Linked DNA regions of Homo sapiens: region 2 is linked to region 1. The links come from fine-mapping of genetic effects on gene expression. Tissue or cell type: whole blood. Region 1 holds a variant in brackets; the other region holds the start of a gene. All regions are shown on one strand. Distances are from middle to middle. Region 1 overlaps SQOR (sulfide quinone oxidoreductase). Region 2 holds the start of SQOR (sulfide quinone oxidoreductase).

Region 1 (8,331 bases):
ATGCCAGAGTCCCAGTTGAAGGGGGAAGGGGCAGAGGATTAAGACCAATAACACCTTGTGAGTCCAAAAACCACAGGAGCCTGGAACAGGTCAGAGCACGGTGGCTGCACTGCCTGCCCCTGCCCTGGGCTCAGCAGCAGGTGGGGGAAAAGAAAGCTGCAGATGGCTTCTGAGCAGGCCTTCCACCATCCTGCTCTTATCACCTCAGTCAAACATGGGGCGGCCACTGCTGAAAAGCTTTGACCCCTGAGTGGTGAGGGTGGGAGACTTCTAAAAGGTGCTGAGCAGTTGTGAGCCTCAAGCTCCAGCAACAATTCTCCTTAGCGCTGGCATGAACCTCAGAGTCACAGGATTCCCCTACAGTTCTGGTAGAGCGCCCCCCAGGGTGGCTGGATGGATATTTTCCAGCATCCTATTGTTCTGGGAGGCTAGGCGACCGGTAGAAAATCTGATTGCTTCAGAAAAAGAGAAGGAGGAAGGTGCTTGCTATTTTAACATGTAGCAACGTATAAACAAATGGTCTGATAAACATTCAGGTGCAAGATAGTATACTAAGCAATAGGGTGCACAGTGGGTGTTCAACAAATACTTATCTTAGTTGTTTATTAACTCAATATCACTCAGTCCTTCCATCTATCCTCCACTTACCACATACCCTGCCATCTTGTGTAGTATTCAACACACATACGTTCATGCACACACATGCATATATACCGCTCTTTCAACACAAGGCTATCCAGTTTAAGATGGCTGCATATTAATACAAGCTGTCAGATTAACAAAAAATCTAAAGGCCTCAGTGGTTACCTTCTCGTCGTCATCTGTGTGAATGCAGTTCTTGTCTGGGTTCAACTCAGTCACTCTAGCTTTGATCCATTCTACACCAGATGGAATCACACTTGCCGTGGGACGACCAGATGAGGACAATTGTTTGGCACCAGCACCCACCAGTGTCCAGATTGGCTGGTAGAAATGTCTCTGAGAAACAAAGTATTTGAAGATTTATTGCAATTTGACACTGATCAAAAGGGGTCATAGCTAACAGTATGGGCTAGATTCTTTCAATCACTCCCTCCTGACCTTTAGAGCATCGTATGGAAAAGTCTCCACAAAGTTAGCTCCGTCTATTAGGCGTCTCCTATTATGGTAAGCTCTGAAGGACAGTCACTCCACACAAGAATTCTTCCAAGATCATCAGAAAAGCTATAAACTATCTTTAGTGACCACTGCATTATGTATTGCTGAAAGTTGATTTGGTGTTTAATATGTACATGTTATATGCACGTGCATATCTACACACATATTATGGATACTTCATGTGAACAAATATTTTAAAAATTAAGCCCAGCAGCCTAGATATGGTTCCTCAGGAGCATGTGGAGACAGTGGTAAGTCTGGAAAGTTTACAGCCCCTTCCAGAGGTCCTCTAAACTTCATTAACTTCCAACTGTGTTTCCCAAGCCCAGTGAGGGCTGTGTTTCCTGAACAGCCCTTCTTCTACTTTCTCAGAGACTCAGAGATTTTACACCAAAGACAATAAGTACCAGATCCTACTCCACAATGCAATGCATACCCAAACTTTCACTATCTTCTGGAGTTTTCTTGCTTCAGATGGTCCTTTTTTTTTTTTTTTTTTTTTTTTAAGACAGAGTCTCGCCCAATCACCCCAATCACCCAGGCTGGAGTGCAGTGGCACGATCTCGGCTCACTGCAACCTCCACCTCCCAGGTTCAGGCGATTCTTCTGCCTCAGCCTCCTGAGTAGCTGGGACTACAGGCATGTGCCACCATGCCTGGCTAATTTTTGCATTTTTAGTAGAGATGGCATTTCACCATGTTGCCTAGGTTGGTCTTGAACTCCTGACCTCAGGTGATCTGCCTTCCTCAGCCTCTCAAAGTGCTGGGATTACAGCCCTGAGCCACTGTGCCCAGCAACAGTCCATTCTTGATCTAAGTTAGTTGTAAAAGTTCTGGACATAGGGGCAAAGGGCAGATTTGTTTAATGGCCTCTAAGAATTCCAATCCACTTAGAGTAGACTGGGGACCAAGAGCTCTCAATATTGCCAAAATGCCTCAAAGTAGCTGGCCAGCACTGCCAAAACCCACAGAGAGGTGAAGAGGACACCAGGAATGACTTTGCAATCTCCCTACAAGCAATAATGTGATCCAAGAGGGAGGAAGACAGAGGTCTCCATTTATGAGAGCTCATCAATGGCCAGTCTATCTTGAACAGTAAGAGGAGCAAAAATACAAGCTCAGATTTTATTTTTAGACTATGAACATCAGCTCCAGCTATCACTAAATCAGACTCAGCAGGGAAAGTACCAAGCCTGGGGCTCTGGCAGCTCCTTCCAGAAATTCCTGTCCTGTACTTCCTCACGGGGCAGGACAAACTTGATTCTGGCCGCCTGAATTGTGCCCAGGTCCCAGAAGAGCCAGTCTCCTTACAAAGAGAAGCCTGACTGGGAGACCCGCCCACGCATTAGCTAAAATACAACATATACCAGAAACAGTAGCCACCTGACACAGCTCTCAGACCACTGTCATTTAAAGTGAGGTTCCTGAATTGAACAGACGTCACTTTAAAAAGGAAAATGATAGAGACTGCCCCCTAGTTTCCTCTCAAATCATGGCCCTGGTTAACATCATTCCCTGCTGGGGACAAATCTTGAAAAGGAGTATGTCTTCCTTGTCCTGTCCTCCCCCTGAAACAGGCACCTGATCCATTTTGCTTTTTCCTCCCAAGGATACAGCTCCCAACCAGTACATGCCTAGTTCCACAGGAAACATTAGGCAAACCACCAAAAATCTTGAATATTTTTCTGAAGCTTTTGGACAATCTTAACATGTTTTTTGTGAGACAGCGCCTTACTCAGTCTTCCCTCCTAGTGTCAGCTACCTTTTCTCCCTTATAATCTGCCCTTGCATTTAAATTTCTAAGCCCACTGACAGCTTTCCAGAGGCCTTCCTGCTCCCCAACTCATCATCCCTTCTCCAGACAGGAACAGATAGGCAAGTGCAGTGGCCATTGATTTTCCTCTGGGCAGGAGGTTGGCACTGGGAGAGTGTCATGGGTTGAATTGTATCTCTCTCAAAGAAGGATGTTGACGTTCTAACCCCAGTACCTGGGAATGTAACCTTATTTGGAAATAGGGTCTTTGCAAATGTAATCAAATTAAGATGAGGTCATTCTTGAATAGAGTGTGCCATAAATCCAATGAATGGTGGCTTTATAAAAGGGTCATGTGAAGACACAGGGACACAGAGACACACAGAGAACATTCTGTGAAGATGGAGGCAGAGAAAGGAGTGGCACAGCTACAAGCCAGAGAGTGGCAAGGATTTCAGGGTAACCACCAGAAGCTGGGAGAGAGGCATGAGACAAAGCCACCTGCCCATCCCTCTCACCCAGGCTGCAGAGGGAGCATGGCCTTGCCCATAGCTTGGTTTCAGGCTTCTAGCCTCCAGAACTGTGAGGGAATAGATGTCTGTTGTTTTAAGCCACCCAATTTGCAGTAATTTGTTATGGCAGCCCTAAGAAACTAATACAGAGGAGAACACTAAAAGCCAAGAGATCTGTTCTCCCTCTCTCTTTCCCTCCACTTCCTCCCAGTCCTTCTGGATAGGCTGCTTTCTGTGCCCAGGAGAAGCCCTAACCTGAACATATGAAGACCCATTGCTTGATAGTCATATCCAACCCCAGAACACACACACACACACACTCACACACACACACACGTACACACACACCCAGGCCCTCAAAAGGGGAGGCTTACCTCACTGGGCTCAACAATGGCCACATTCTCTGCACCCACTTTCCTCTTCATGCGGGCAGCCATGGTGATTCCGCCACTGCCCCCACCCAGCACCAGCACCTCATAATGGTTCCTGGCCGCATGGCTGGCCCCGGTGTGCAGCTGAAGGGGGCCGACCTGCTGAGTGCCCAGCCTGAGCAGGCAGGCAAAGAGCTGGGCACGGGGCCCTGATACCACAGCCACCAGTGGCACCATCTTCAGGCAGGAT[C/G]AGGCTGGAAGGGAAGAGACAGGGCTGTGAGTGCCAAGGTAGAAACCATCGTGGGACTGAAGCGTTTTCTTTCCAGGAGGAAGGGAGGCCGGCATCTGGCCCGCTCCAGCTGGTCCCCATCATCTCTCAAGACCACTTTCCCCACTGGCTGTGGTCCCAAGGTCTCCTGAGAGCACCCAATTGGTAGCTATCAGTTGACTACACTTACCATTTCTCCCCTTCCGCCTACGTTCAGGCTATCGAGGACTTTGTTTGAATCAGGTTCCCCAACTCTTTAAGTCCTTCCTAATAACCTGTCTGTACCCATCCTTGTCCATCCGTAAGATCTAGGGCACCATCTGGTTGTATCCAGCTGTTGGCCCATTCTCCACGGAGGCACACTCCCCAGTGCTTTCTGTGGATTTTCAGTCCATTAAAACTGATATACGAGTCCACAATTAGAGACCTACAACATTCCTTGCAGTAAAAGGCACCTGAGACCTTGTTGAAACAGAAACCGTCTAGCAAGAAACCCACCTTCTGCAACTCAGAGTACCCACCAGGGCAATCAAGGCCTCAGCCCCCATCCAGAGGCCTCCTGGCTCTGCTTGCCCAGGGAAATATAATGTAATCAAATCACTGGCTACCGACACACAAGTGAAGGCCCTCCACACCTCTAGCAATTTCAACCAAACGATTTTAGAAAGCCATAAAAGGAGCCCTGCCTGGTATCATAAAGTTATATTTTATGGAAGGAATCTGTATATGCTGCTGACTAGTCTTTTATTACATCCAATTCAGTAAACAATTTCTCCTTAATAGTTCCTCCGAGAGACTCACTTTACCTTTAAGAAAACCTGTTTCTACTCTCAGCAGTTAGTGCTTTGGCAGAGAGGAAATTAAGGCTTCTCAAAGACTGACCTTTGCTTTACCCCACACACAAAGCTGGCCTGACATCCAGGACTCCATCTACTTGTAAACCTTGAGTGGCTCCGGCTCATGATATCTCCCTCCCTGGGTATGACAGTGCCCCAAATCCTACCGTCAAGTCCAGTTCTTAGGGTTCACCACTGCTCCAAGAACCCTTTATTAAAATGCAAGTGTCCAGCTGGGGACTAACACTTCTAGCTGCTAAGGTTACTAACTACTTAATAAAATGACTTAATTATATCATTTCCATCCTCCCGACTGGAGAAGAGGAAGCCTGCACAAGGGGATTAGAGAAAGCTGGCAGGGCAGAGGAGCTACAAAAAGAAAGAAAGGCCTTGGAGAGGGGGAAAAATAATAGGGAATGGGAAAGAGGAGCTGAGGGGCTGTTAAGATTAACTTAATTCCAGAGTTTTGGTGCCCCGACAACTTCTTCAATATTTCAGATCTGAGAAGCAACCTAGAGCTGTAGGAAGGGGATTTGGAGGCCCACGGTAAGTAGGACAGGCTCATACAGTGTTTCCAGGAGTCTAGAGTCAATAAAACCCTTCTGGAAACTTACCCTTTGACCCTGCATTTCCATTTCTAGGAATCTAATCTAAGGAAATAACCTCTAATACTGAAGAAGAAAAACCACTACAAAGATGTTTTTCACAAATGTATTCATAATCTGGTCACCCCTCTACTAATTGGTTTGTGGATTAGGGCTAATTATGTCCTGGGGACAGAAAAAAAAAAATGCAGGCTCCACACGGGCCAGGGAAGGCTCAGGTCACCACTTTAATATGGGGGCAGAGAGCAATGCAAATATCAAAACACTGGGGAAAGGTTAACTAAAATATGGAACACAAGATGATTTCTGAAGTCTTTTAAAATTATGTTCATAAACAATATATAGACCAGGCGTGGTGGTTCACACCGGTAATCCCAGCACTTTGGGAGGCCAAGACAGGTGGATCACCTGAGGTCAGCAGTTCAAGACCACCCTGGCCAACATGGTGAAACCCTGTCTCTACTAAAAATACAAAAATTTTTAGCCAGGCGTGGTGGTGTGTGCCTGTAATCCCAGCTACTAGGGAGGCTGAGCCATGAGAATTGCTTGAACCCAGGAGGCAGAGGTTGCAGTAAGCTGAGATCATGCCACTGCACTCCAACCTGGGTGACAGAGTGAGACTCTGTCTGAAAAAAACAATAAAATAAAATAAATAAAAAATGTTTACATCATGATCAGGATACAAATTAGAAATGCAATATTCTCTCAACTATGTAAGAGGAAATATATTAGAAAAAACAAAGCCAAAATTTTAACACTGGCAAGTGGTTTTCTCTGGGTTTTAGAATAATGAGTGATTTTGATTTCTTCTGCTTTTATGTATTTTATAAAAGTCTCTACTATACACATACATTAATATTGGCTGGGCATGGTGGCTCACACCTGTAATCCCAGCACTTTAGGAGGCTGAGAGAGAGGGATCACCTGAGCCCAGGAGTTTGAGACTAGCATGGAAAACATGGGGAAACCCCAACTCTATTTAAAAAAAAAAAAAATTAGCCAGGCATGGTGGTGCACCCAGCTACTACCAAGGCTGAAGTGGAAGGATCACTCAAGCCCGGGAGGTGAAGGCCACAGTGATCTGTGATTTCACCACTGTACTCCAGCCTGGGAAGAGAGGGAGACCCTGTCTCAAAATAAATAAATAAAATTAATATTAATAAAATCTTCCTTTAGATGATAATTAACATTTACAAAGTCCTTTACATAAGCATTTAACTTGTGAGTTGGCTACCACCATCATTCCCATTTAACAGATGGTAAAACTAAGGCAGATAGCAGTTAAGTGACTCTCAAAGTTATATAGCCCATGGGTGGACTGTGATTTGTACCCAGGTATTTTGGTGTGAGAGCCTCTACTTTAAACCACTACACCATACTATCTCTATGATCTTTAGAACAATATGTCTCAACAGCAACAAAACAATGCTTGTGTGATAATGTTAAACGGGGAAAAAAAAAAAAATAGGCCAGGCACGGTGGCTCACGCCTGTAATCCTAGCACTTTGGGAGGCCAAGGCGGGCGGATCACAAGGTCAGGAGATCGAGACCATCCTGGCCAACATGGTGAAATCCCGTCTCTACTAAAATACAAAAAAAAATTAGCTGGGCATGGTGGTGTACACCTGTAGTCCCAGCTACTGGGGAGGCTGAGGCAGGGGAATCACTTGAACCCGTGAGGCGAAGGTTGCAGTAAGCCAAGATTGCGCCACTGCACTCCAGCCTGGGCAACAGAGTGAGACTCTGTCTCAAAAAGAAAAAAAAAAAAAAGATATACTTTCTACAACTTCCCAGAAAAGGGAAACCATTTTTCATGATACTGATACCTAAATATTAGCAATGGTTTTAATGATTATAATTATTTTCCCTCTTCTTTGTATGTACTTTTCACAAATTTTCTTTAATACACTGTACATTTTAAATTTTAAAAATTACTCAAATAGATTTTTTTTAGATTGAAGAGAAGAAGAAATCACCAAGTAAGATATTGATGTTTCATACGGAAGGAAGAAGATATTTTATGGTGTGTACCCAGTCATCACATCCTGCTTTTCTTTCTAAATGTCCACAGAATGATAGAATCACAGCAAAACTTCTCACTTTCCAGAAAAGAAAAATCATGTTTTTCATGGTCCTGACACTATATCTATCTCCATGGGAAAAGCCCCATAGGAAGCGCCCCATGGGGCAGGGGCAGGAGGAGCAATCTAGGAGGAGGCCTGGCTAAGTTTCTGGTTTCCAGCCACCCTGTCTGAGGTTATTTGGCCTCCAAGTGATACAAGAGTTAAGAAAAATTTACTTAGGCAGATAGTGAGGGTATGGAAGTCCTCGGTAAGGTTTTCCTTTTAATGAAAAGCAGCCCCAAATCATTTTCCTGTCTAACAAAAGCAGCCTGTAAAATCGAGCTGCAGACATAGATGCTGGCAATCATGTTCAAGATGGCGGCTCCATTTTCCCTTTGCTTTGTCAGCCATGTGTACAGTAAGGAGCAGACAAGATGGCCCCAACTAAGGGGAAAGTTCATTTGCATAATAAGATGAGGGTGGGGAGGCCAGCCTTCCTGATGCACTATGTAAACATCATACCTGATCAAACCAATCTGTGAGCCCTATGTAAATCAGACACCGCCTCCACCAACCTGACTATAAAATCTGACATATCCACCACCGGCCACGTCTTTCCACTCAGAAGACCCCTCTCTCTCAATAGAGAGAGTTGTTTTTCTTTCTCTTTTCTCCTGTCTATTAAACCTCCACTCCGAAACTCCTTGTGTGTGTCCATGTCCTAAATTTTCCTGGCGCAACACGATAAACCATGGGTATACACGCCAGTCAATGTAGCCACTTCACT
Region 2 (8,331 bases), 23 kb after region 1:
TACAGACATAGCCATTTTCTCTCCATTCATGTAGCTAGGGCCAGAGCTGCTGGTTCCCAGCTAGGTGGCATGAAAGTTCCCTGAGGGCTGGGCTAGGGCCAAAACATGGAGATTCATTATGATCAGAAGGGAGTCACCCCATGGTATTTAAGGATGATCATAACATCATCACCCATCACCCACCATACATTTACAAAGTACTTACTATGTACATGGCACAACAGCTAACCTAGGTCACTTGCTGAAGAGGCCAAGTTTTTCTTTTCCTAACAGTCAAAATCATGAAGCTGAATATGGCTTTAACAACTTCAGGCAAGATCCTAGGGACCACACAGGGTGTCTGTAGAAGGAAAGTACATGGGAGACTCTTCTGCATAGGTTGGGTAAGAGATCCTAAGAGCAAGTGATGGACATGTCGGGATCATGACTTAAAAGAGATGGTGCCTAGTTGTAGCCATTTTTTTTAAACCTATTGTCCATTTGGTAGAACCAGTTGTATTAATTTTCTAGGGCTGCCATAACAAAACACTATAGACTAGATGAAGTCTAGAGAACAGAAATTTATTTTCTCAAAGTTCTGGAGATTGAAAGTCCAAGACCTCAGTGCTGATGAGACTGGTTTCTCCTGGGATCTCTCTCCCTGGTTTGCAGATGGCCACCTTCTCAGTGTGCCTTTGCGTGGCCTTTTCTCTGTGCACATGTGCTCCTGACGAGTCATCTTCTTATAAGGATACTATTCATATTGGATTAGGGCTCCACCTTAATGACCTAACTTAATTTTCCTTTTTTTTTTTTCTTTCTTTCTTTTTTTGAGACAGAGTCTTGCTCTGTTGCGCAGGCTAGAATGCAGTGGCATGATAATCTTGGCTCAATGCAACTTCCTCCTCTCCGGTTCAAGCAAGTCTCATGCCTCAGCCCCCTGAGTAGTTGGAATTACAGGTGCACACTACCCCACCCAGCTAATATTTTGAATTTTTAGTAGAGACGGGGTTCCTCTATGTTGGCCAGGCTGGCCTCAAACTCCCAGCCTCAAGCGATCTGCTTACCTCGGCCTCCCAAAGTGCTGGGATTACAGGCGTGAGCCACCGTGCCTGGCTAATTATTCTTTTATTGAGACAAGGTCTTGCTATGTTGCTCAGGCTAGCCTCGAACTTCTGAGCTCAAGCAGTTCTCCCACCTCAGCCTCCCAAGTAGCTGGGGCTACAGGTGCTCACCACCACTTCTAACTAAGGCACTATCTCCTAATACAGTCACATTCTAAGATCCTGGGGGCTAGGGTTTCAATATATGAATTTGGTGAGTCCATAACACCAGTATTTGCCCTTCCCAAAGTTACAGACATAGATAGTCCCAGTGTGTTCTAAATTTCCGAGGGTTTTTTTGTTCTGTTTTGTTTTTTTCCACAAAGTTCTCTACCTCCTGTCCCAATTTAGCACTTTCTCAATGTAAATCACAGGGATGGTTGGCTAGATCTACTTTTCTTTATTATTATTACCACCTACATCTGGGGATTACAAAGATTTTTAAGGCTGGGATTAAGAAGCAACTAGTTGGCTTCCAGCCAGGTCTGGGCAGCTTTCCATAAGCTATCCAAACTGCTCCTATTTACCAAGTCTTCAGAGTCAAAGAGGAGTTATATAGTAGATAGTGGAGCAGGGAAACGTGAAAGGAGAAGAAAAAAGTACATCTATGCCCAGAAATGCCTTGTCATGGGTCCGTCTCCATTCTTTATAAGACATTTCCTGTGTTACAACACATCGGATTAACAAAGCTAGACACAGGCAACATGGAGGAGAAACTGTTCTGCAAAGGAATCCGGTTTCCTTTCAACATTCAGTTTCATTTTCACTGGCAGAACACCAGCCACACAGACACGCACACACAGACCCTGGGCCCTGACTGACATTTCAAACACCCCCGTTCCAAATGTGTTTATATATTTTTCCAGCCAGAAAAAAAGCCCCAAATTTAAACAAAGTCATTTCCCAAACCACCAGCTGTCTCCTTAATGAATTTTGTTTTTTGGACTTAGTCACAAGCAACCCTTTCTGACCCACTTATTCATTCAATAAATAATGAGTACCTCCCCAGGCTTGGGGATATAAGGCCATAAGCTTGGGAGGGATACAAATAAGTTCTGATAAATGGTATCTACTTCAGCCCTCTACACTAAGTGCAGTGCTGGGTGCCTTAAATACTTGGGAAGGTGTTATTATCTCCACTGTACAATGAAGAAGCTGAGGCGAAAAGAAATTCAAAAGCCAAAGTTAAGCTGGGTGTGGTGGTTGCTTTGGGAAGCAGACAAGGGCAGATCACTTGAGGTCAGCAGTTCAAGACCAGCCTAGCCAATATGGTGAAACCCTGTCTCTACCAAAAAATACAAAAATTAGCCAGGTGTGGTGGTGGGTGGCTGGTGTAATCCCAGCTACTAGGGATGCTGAGGCAGGCGAATCACTCGAACCTGCGAGGAGGTTGCAGTGAGCAGAGATCACCTCACTGTACTCCAGCTTAGGCGACACAGCAAGACCATGTCTCAAAAAAAAAAAAAAGCCAAGGTTACAATGGGCCTTGGAAATGTCAATGGAAGTGTCAAGCCCAGAAGCCAAGTCATTGGGTCAGTGCCCTTTCTACTATCAGAGGATCTTAACCTGGACCCAAAAACTTAGATGGAAAAGTATTTTACATCTTTATTTTTACGGATATTTAATATTTACATCTTTTATTTCTCTAGTATCTAACTGAAATTTAACATTTACTTCAATTATGTATGTAGCCAACAAACCACAGCAGTATTGGCAATACTAAGACTTTGTCACCAATAGAAATCACAGATATTGGCCGTGCGCAGTGGCTCATGCCTGTAATCCCAGAACTTTGGGAGTCCAAGGTGGGCGTATCACAAGGTCAAGAGATCGAGACCATCCTGGACAATATGGTGAAATCCTGTCTCTACTAAAAATACAAAAATTAGCTGGGTGTGGTGGCACACACCTGTAGTCCCATCTACTCGGGAGGCTGAGGCAGGAGAATCACTTGAACCCAGCAGGCGGAGGTTGCATTGAACCGAGATCGCGCCACTGCACTCCAGCCTGGTGACAGAGTGAGACTCCGTCTCAAAAAAAAAAAAAAAAGAAGAAAGAAATTACAGATATTTTCTTATATTACAAGTATTACCTATATCTTGAAATAATTGTTTATGTTCTTTACTACTTCAAAATTATGGTAACTATTTAATCCACTGCTAGATCTTGTTATTTAATAACCTTGTTATTAAATAACGCATTCGTTTTTTAAAGACATATATATTACCATATCATAAATTCTTTTAATGTTTTGACATGTGTTTTGCAATTGGTTTCCTTTATAATACTCTTCCTTTTGTTTTATACCTTTAAAAAAGCATTGTTCTGGTCCAGCGCGGTGGCTCACTCGTGTAATCCCAGCACTTTGGAAGGCCGAAGTGTGCGGATCATTTGAGGCCAGGAGTTCGAGACCAGCTGGGCAACATGGTGAAACCCGCCTCTACTACAAATACTAAAATTAGCCAGGTGTGCTGCGCCTGTAATCCCAGTTACTCGGCAGGCTGAGGCAGGAGAATCGCTTGAACCCGGGAGGTGGAGGTGGCAGTGAGCCGAGATCGCGCCACTGCACTCCAGCTTGGGCGACAGAGCAAGACTCTGTCTCAAAAAAAAGTATTGTTCTGAGAGTCTTTAGCCTTCCCAGAAATGCCAAAGGGGTGCACAGCACAAAAATGGAACAGAGCCCTGCATTATAGCAATGGGCAGCGCAGGCAAAGCCAGGGGCTCTGTTCAGCGTCTTTGAGCAAAAAGCCAGGTTGGAATTTTGATAAATAAAAGAGACAGATGAAGAGGAAAGGAAATGAGCCCAGATTCCACCAGAAGACCCCTTCTCCCTTTCCACCAATTCCTGTTCAGCAGGTGCCCTAAATCCTCTCCCCTTCAGGTTTCAGCTGCAGCCGACCCCTCGAGCGCCCCCTCTGTCCCACGCGCAGTGTCGGTGGATGACTGTGTCAATCCCTGGCCCCCGGACGCCGAGCACCCACTCCCGCTCCAGGACGGTGCCGAGTGACAGTCAACAGGTGGAAGGCGCCAGAAACGTCCACACACCAAGACCACGGATACTTCGGTTTTTAAGCACCCCTCGCGGGTTGGCCTCTCCGCGGCCCTGAGGCTCTGACACTCTGAGAAGGAAGCAAGAGTCCCAAGACCCGGGTTCCAGACAAGGGCAGCAAGAGCTGCAGGTGTCCGGAGTTGAGGAAGCAAAGTTTGGGGCGCGGCGCACCGGGTCTGCGGAGTCCCAGCTGCGGAAACCGAGTTAAGCTAACAAACAGCCTCAGTGGTGGTCGCTGTCCCCGCCCAGTCTCCCTCCGCTGGCCCAGGGCCAAAGATCGGCCGCGGATGCCTCTTACCCGGGCGTGAGCGGAGCCTTCGGTCACTGCGTTGGCGCAGCAAAAACCTTCGCTCCCTTCTGGGTCTCAAGGCCTGGACTGGGGCCCCGCCCGCCTGCCATCCGGGCGGAGGCTGGAGGCGGGGAAAGCGAGGCTCCCCCCAGGAAAGGTCCCGAAAAGTCCCGCCGTGCCCCGCCCGGCGCCGCAGCCCAGGCACCATGGTCAGTGAACACACCAGGGCGTTGAGCGCTCACGGGGCACAGAACCAGGAACAAGCGTCCATCCGGCCTGGGGTGCTGCCGGCTGGACAGACTCGCCCCTTGCGCGCCCTGAAGGGCGGCCCCGCAGGCTGGGGCGCACAGGCGGAGGACACCGAGGCCACCTGACGCTTCCGCCCCTGGGTGCCAACAGCGTTTTGTAATCAGGGCAGGCAAAAGCGGAGGCGGGGCGCTGTGCAGAGAGGCTCTGGCTGTTCCCACTGGGTCCTCCTATGTGCCCTGGGCTTCTCACCGGGTTCACACAGCTGCCCAGAAACACAGGTATTCCCGCGCTCATTTCACAGAGAAGGTGACCGAGGTTCAGCTTTGGTGTGCGCTGGAGCCCTTCCTTCAAAACGCGCAGGCAGGGGTAAGCTGGCTTCCAGCCACTGGCCTCCACAGTGTCCCATCCCATATTCATGACTGGACATTTTCAGTTGGCGGCTCTTTCCAGGTTGATGTAAAGTCTCAGTGAGTGGTTCTCCACCATATCAGATTCAGTAACCCTTTTTACAATAAATACAGGGTGTCCCAAAAGTCTCATAACCTGAGAAGTGCAAGTGCTAGAAGCTTTCAAAAAAACAAACAAAAATAAACCCTTGAAAGTTTGAGTTTCTTTTACACTTATTTGGTTTTATGAATTTTGAATATATATATATATATATATATATATAGTTGTTGTTGTTGTTTTTTGAAACAGAGTCTCACTGTGTTGCCCAGGCTGGAGCGCAGTGAGTAGAGCAATCTCGGCTCACTGCAACATCTGCCTCATGGGTTCAACCAATTCTGGTGTCTCAGCCTCCTGAGTAGCTGGGACTACAGGTGTGTGCCACCATGCCCGGCTAATTTTTGTATGTTTCAGTAGAGATGAGGTTTCACCATGTTGGCCAAGCTGGTCTCAAACTCCTGGCCTCAAGCGATCTGCCCTCCTGGGCCTCCCAAAGTGCTGGGATTACAGGCGTGAGCCACCATGCCCAGCCTTGAATATTATTTTTTTAAATGTTTTCAACTGATACTTTCTATCTTTAATCAAAGAGACTGACTGTATCTATGGCAAAATCATCATGAACAATACAATACAAACGCAGACTGTAGACTTTTATTGGTAACTCAATTCCATCTGCAGCATTGCTTCTGTGACATGATTTTCTTCTTCTTCTTTTTTTTTTTTTTTTTTTTGAGGCGAAGTCTCACTCCGTCTCCCAGGCTGGAGTGCAGTGGTGTGATCTCAGCTCACTACAACGTCCACCTCCCGGATTCAAGTGATTCTCCTGCCTCAGCCTCCCGAGTAGCTGGGACTACAGGCATCCACCACCACCCATGGCTAATTTTTGTATTTTTAGTAGAGACAGGGTTTCACCATGTTGGCCAGGCTGGTCTTGAACTCCTGACCAAGTGATCCACCCACCTTGGCCTCCCAAAGTGCTGGGATTACAGGCGTGAGCCATCGCACCCAGCCAACATGATTTTTTGAAATGGCAAATAACTCTGGTAAAGAAGCTCTGAACAAAACAAAGTATACTCTTTTCTTCCTTTATTCCAATAGAAACATTCCTGGAAATTTTAGTATGAAAACCATGCAAAATGCTTAATGTTTATAATTATCTGAACTAGAACCTAAATAACTTTACCAAAAAAATGGTTTTTTGCATACTTGAATGTTGGTGCAAGGCACAGGACACCAGAAATTGTGCAGGACTCTGGACAGTTAATTGGGTTTTTGGTTTTTTGGGTTTTTTTTTTTTTAATTGAGACAGGGTCTCACTCTGCTACCCAGGTTTGAGTGCAATGGTGCGATAACAGCTTCCTGCAGCCTTGACCTCTGGAGCTTAAACAGTCCTCCTACCTCAGCCTCCCAAATAACTGAGACCACAGGCATGTGCCACCATGCCCAACTAATTTTTTTCTAAATTTATTTATTTTTTTTTTTTGTAGAGATGGAGATCTCACTACATTGCCTAGGCTGGTCTTGAACTCCTGGGCTCAAGCCATCCTCCCGCCTCAGCCTCTCAAGGTACTGGGATTAGAGGAGTGGGCCACCATGACTGGCCAGGACAGTTCATTGTTATATGGCCCTGTTCACATAGCAAGGGAGGTTGGCTTCCTTGGTTCCCACTCTCTAAATGCCAATAGACTCTCTCCCAAATTTATGACAAATAAAAAGTCCCCTCCTATATTTCCAAAATGCTTCACCCCACTTCCCAGTCCCATCACCCTCCACATCCAAGCCAAGAAGCCCTGGTTTAAATGGGAAGGATGCAGGCGGGAAGGAGTCACAGGAGATGTGCTGCCTGCTGGGTGGTTTGAGATTGATGGCTGTGGAACCAGATTCAGAGTTAAGAAACATGTCCTGGGCTGGGTGCGGTGGCTCGTGCCTGTAATCCTAGCACTTTGGGAGGCTGTGGCAGGCAGATCACGAGGTCAGGAGTTCGAGACCAGCCTGGCCAGCATGATGAAACCCCGTCTCTACTAAAAATACAAAAAAATTAGCCGGGCATTGTGGCACGTGCCTGTAGTCCCAGCTACTCGGGAGGCTGAGGCAGGAGAATTGCTTGAACCCAGCAGGCGGAGGTTGCAGTGAGCCAAGATCGTGCCACTGCACTCCAGCCTGGGCAACAGAGCGAGACTCCATCAAAAAAGGAAGGAAGGAAGGAGGGAGGGAGGGAGGGAGGGAGGGGAGGGGAGGGGGAGGGAAATGTCCTGAGCATATCCCACATGCTGAGATCCTCCAGTGTATGTATTCTACTATCTCACTCAAGAGCCCTCCTTCCAATGCAAAAGAGAATACTTCAAAGGAGAACAGAAGTTGTAACTTGCCCATCAGACAAGGAAGGGGACTGAGAGTTGACTCACTTACTCATGCAGTCATTCTTTCATCTGGTGGATATTCTCTGAGTCCTTGCCTTCTGTGTCCAGCAAGCCCTGTGCCCGCTGTCTAGGCATACACTGTTGAAAAAAATCAGACTTGATTCCTACCCATGTGAAGTTTGCGAGGAATGAAAGTGCACTTGGGGATATGGGAAACTGAAAGAAGTATCATTAAAGGATGGGAAGAAGAAGTGATAGGAGGAGCTAGCACTAAGAGGAACACACCCCAATTCAAGAACATCCGGGAGAAGGAAAATAAATCCAAATCAGGGCTCTGGGAAGATTTGCAGACACGTGGGCAGGAAGGGCTGGCAACAGGAATGGGTGGAAATAGAGAATGGAACAGTGAAAGGGATCCTTATCACAAGAAAGGGAAGGCTCAGGAGGAAGATCAGAGCAAAGAGGCTGATCCTCCAGTACTGTCTTTCCTGCCCGATCAGCAAGCCCCACCCTCATCCCTTCCCTGCTGCAAATGCTTCCTGGATGAGTAGCTAGAGAAACAACTCATACCCTAGCCTCCCCAGCAAACCCTCCCTAGCTGGGACAGTAACCCAGCCAAGGCTTCACAGCTAAGCAATGAGACTTGTGGGAGAGCTGGGAATGAGTTCTTGCTATGCATCAGGGAGCAAGCATCACATGGTGTTTCATCCTGCCAAGCCACAGGGCAGTCTCAGAACCAGATAGGCAGATGAACAGGTTGTATTAATTTGTTTTCACACTGCTGATAAAGACATACCCAAGACTGGGAAGAAAAAGAAGTTTAATTGGACTTACAGTACCATGTGGCTGGGGAGGCCT

What was found.
Region 2: SQOR starts here. The variant in region 1 is fine-mapped to the expression of SQOR in whole blood (TOPMed, PIP above 0.99).

Annotation. Positions count from the first base shown.
Region 1 is chr15:45,654,602-45,662,932 of GRCh38, reverse strand. SQOR (sulfide quinone oxidoreductase) reads right to left here. Exons shown (of 10, transcript NM_021199.4): 2 at 3,776-4,026; 3 at 808-978. The coding sequence starts at 4,009. Among named protein-coding and RNA genes, the nearest start is that of SQOR, 24 kb to the right of the region's middle. The variant C/G (reference allele first, on the strand shown) is at 4,023.
Region 2 is chr15:45,631,207-45,639,537 of GRCh38, reverse strand. SQOR (sulfide quinone oxidoreductase) reads right to left here and starts at 4,509. Exons shown (of 10, transcript NM_021199.4): 1 at 4,430-4,509. RefSeq lists enhancers at 1,739-1,798, 1,829-1,908, 3,738-3,787, 3,818-3,907, 4,370-5,365 and a silencer at 4,388-4,557.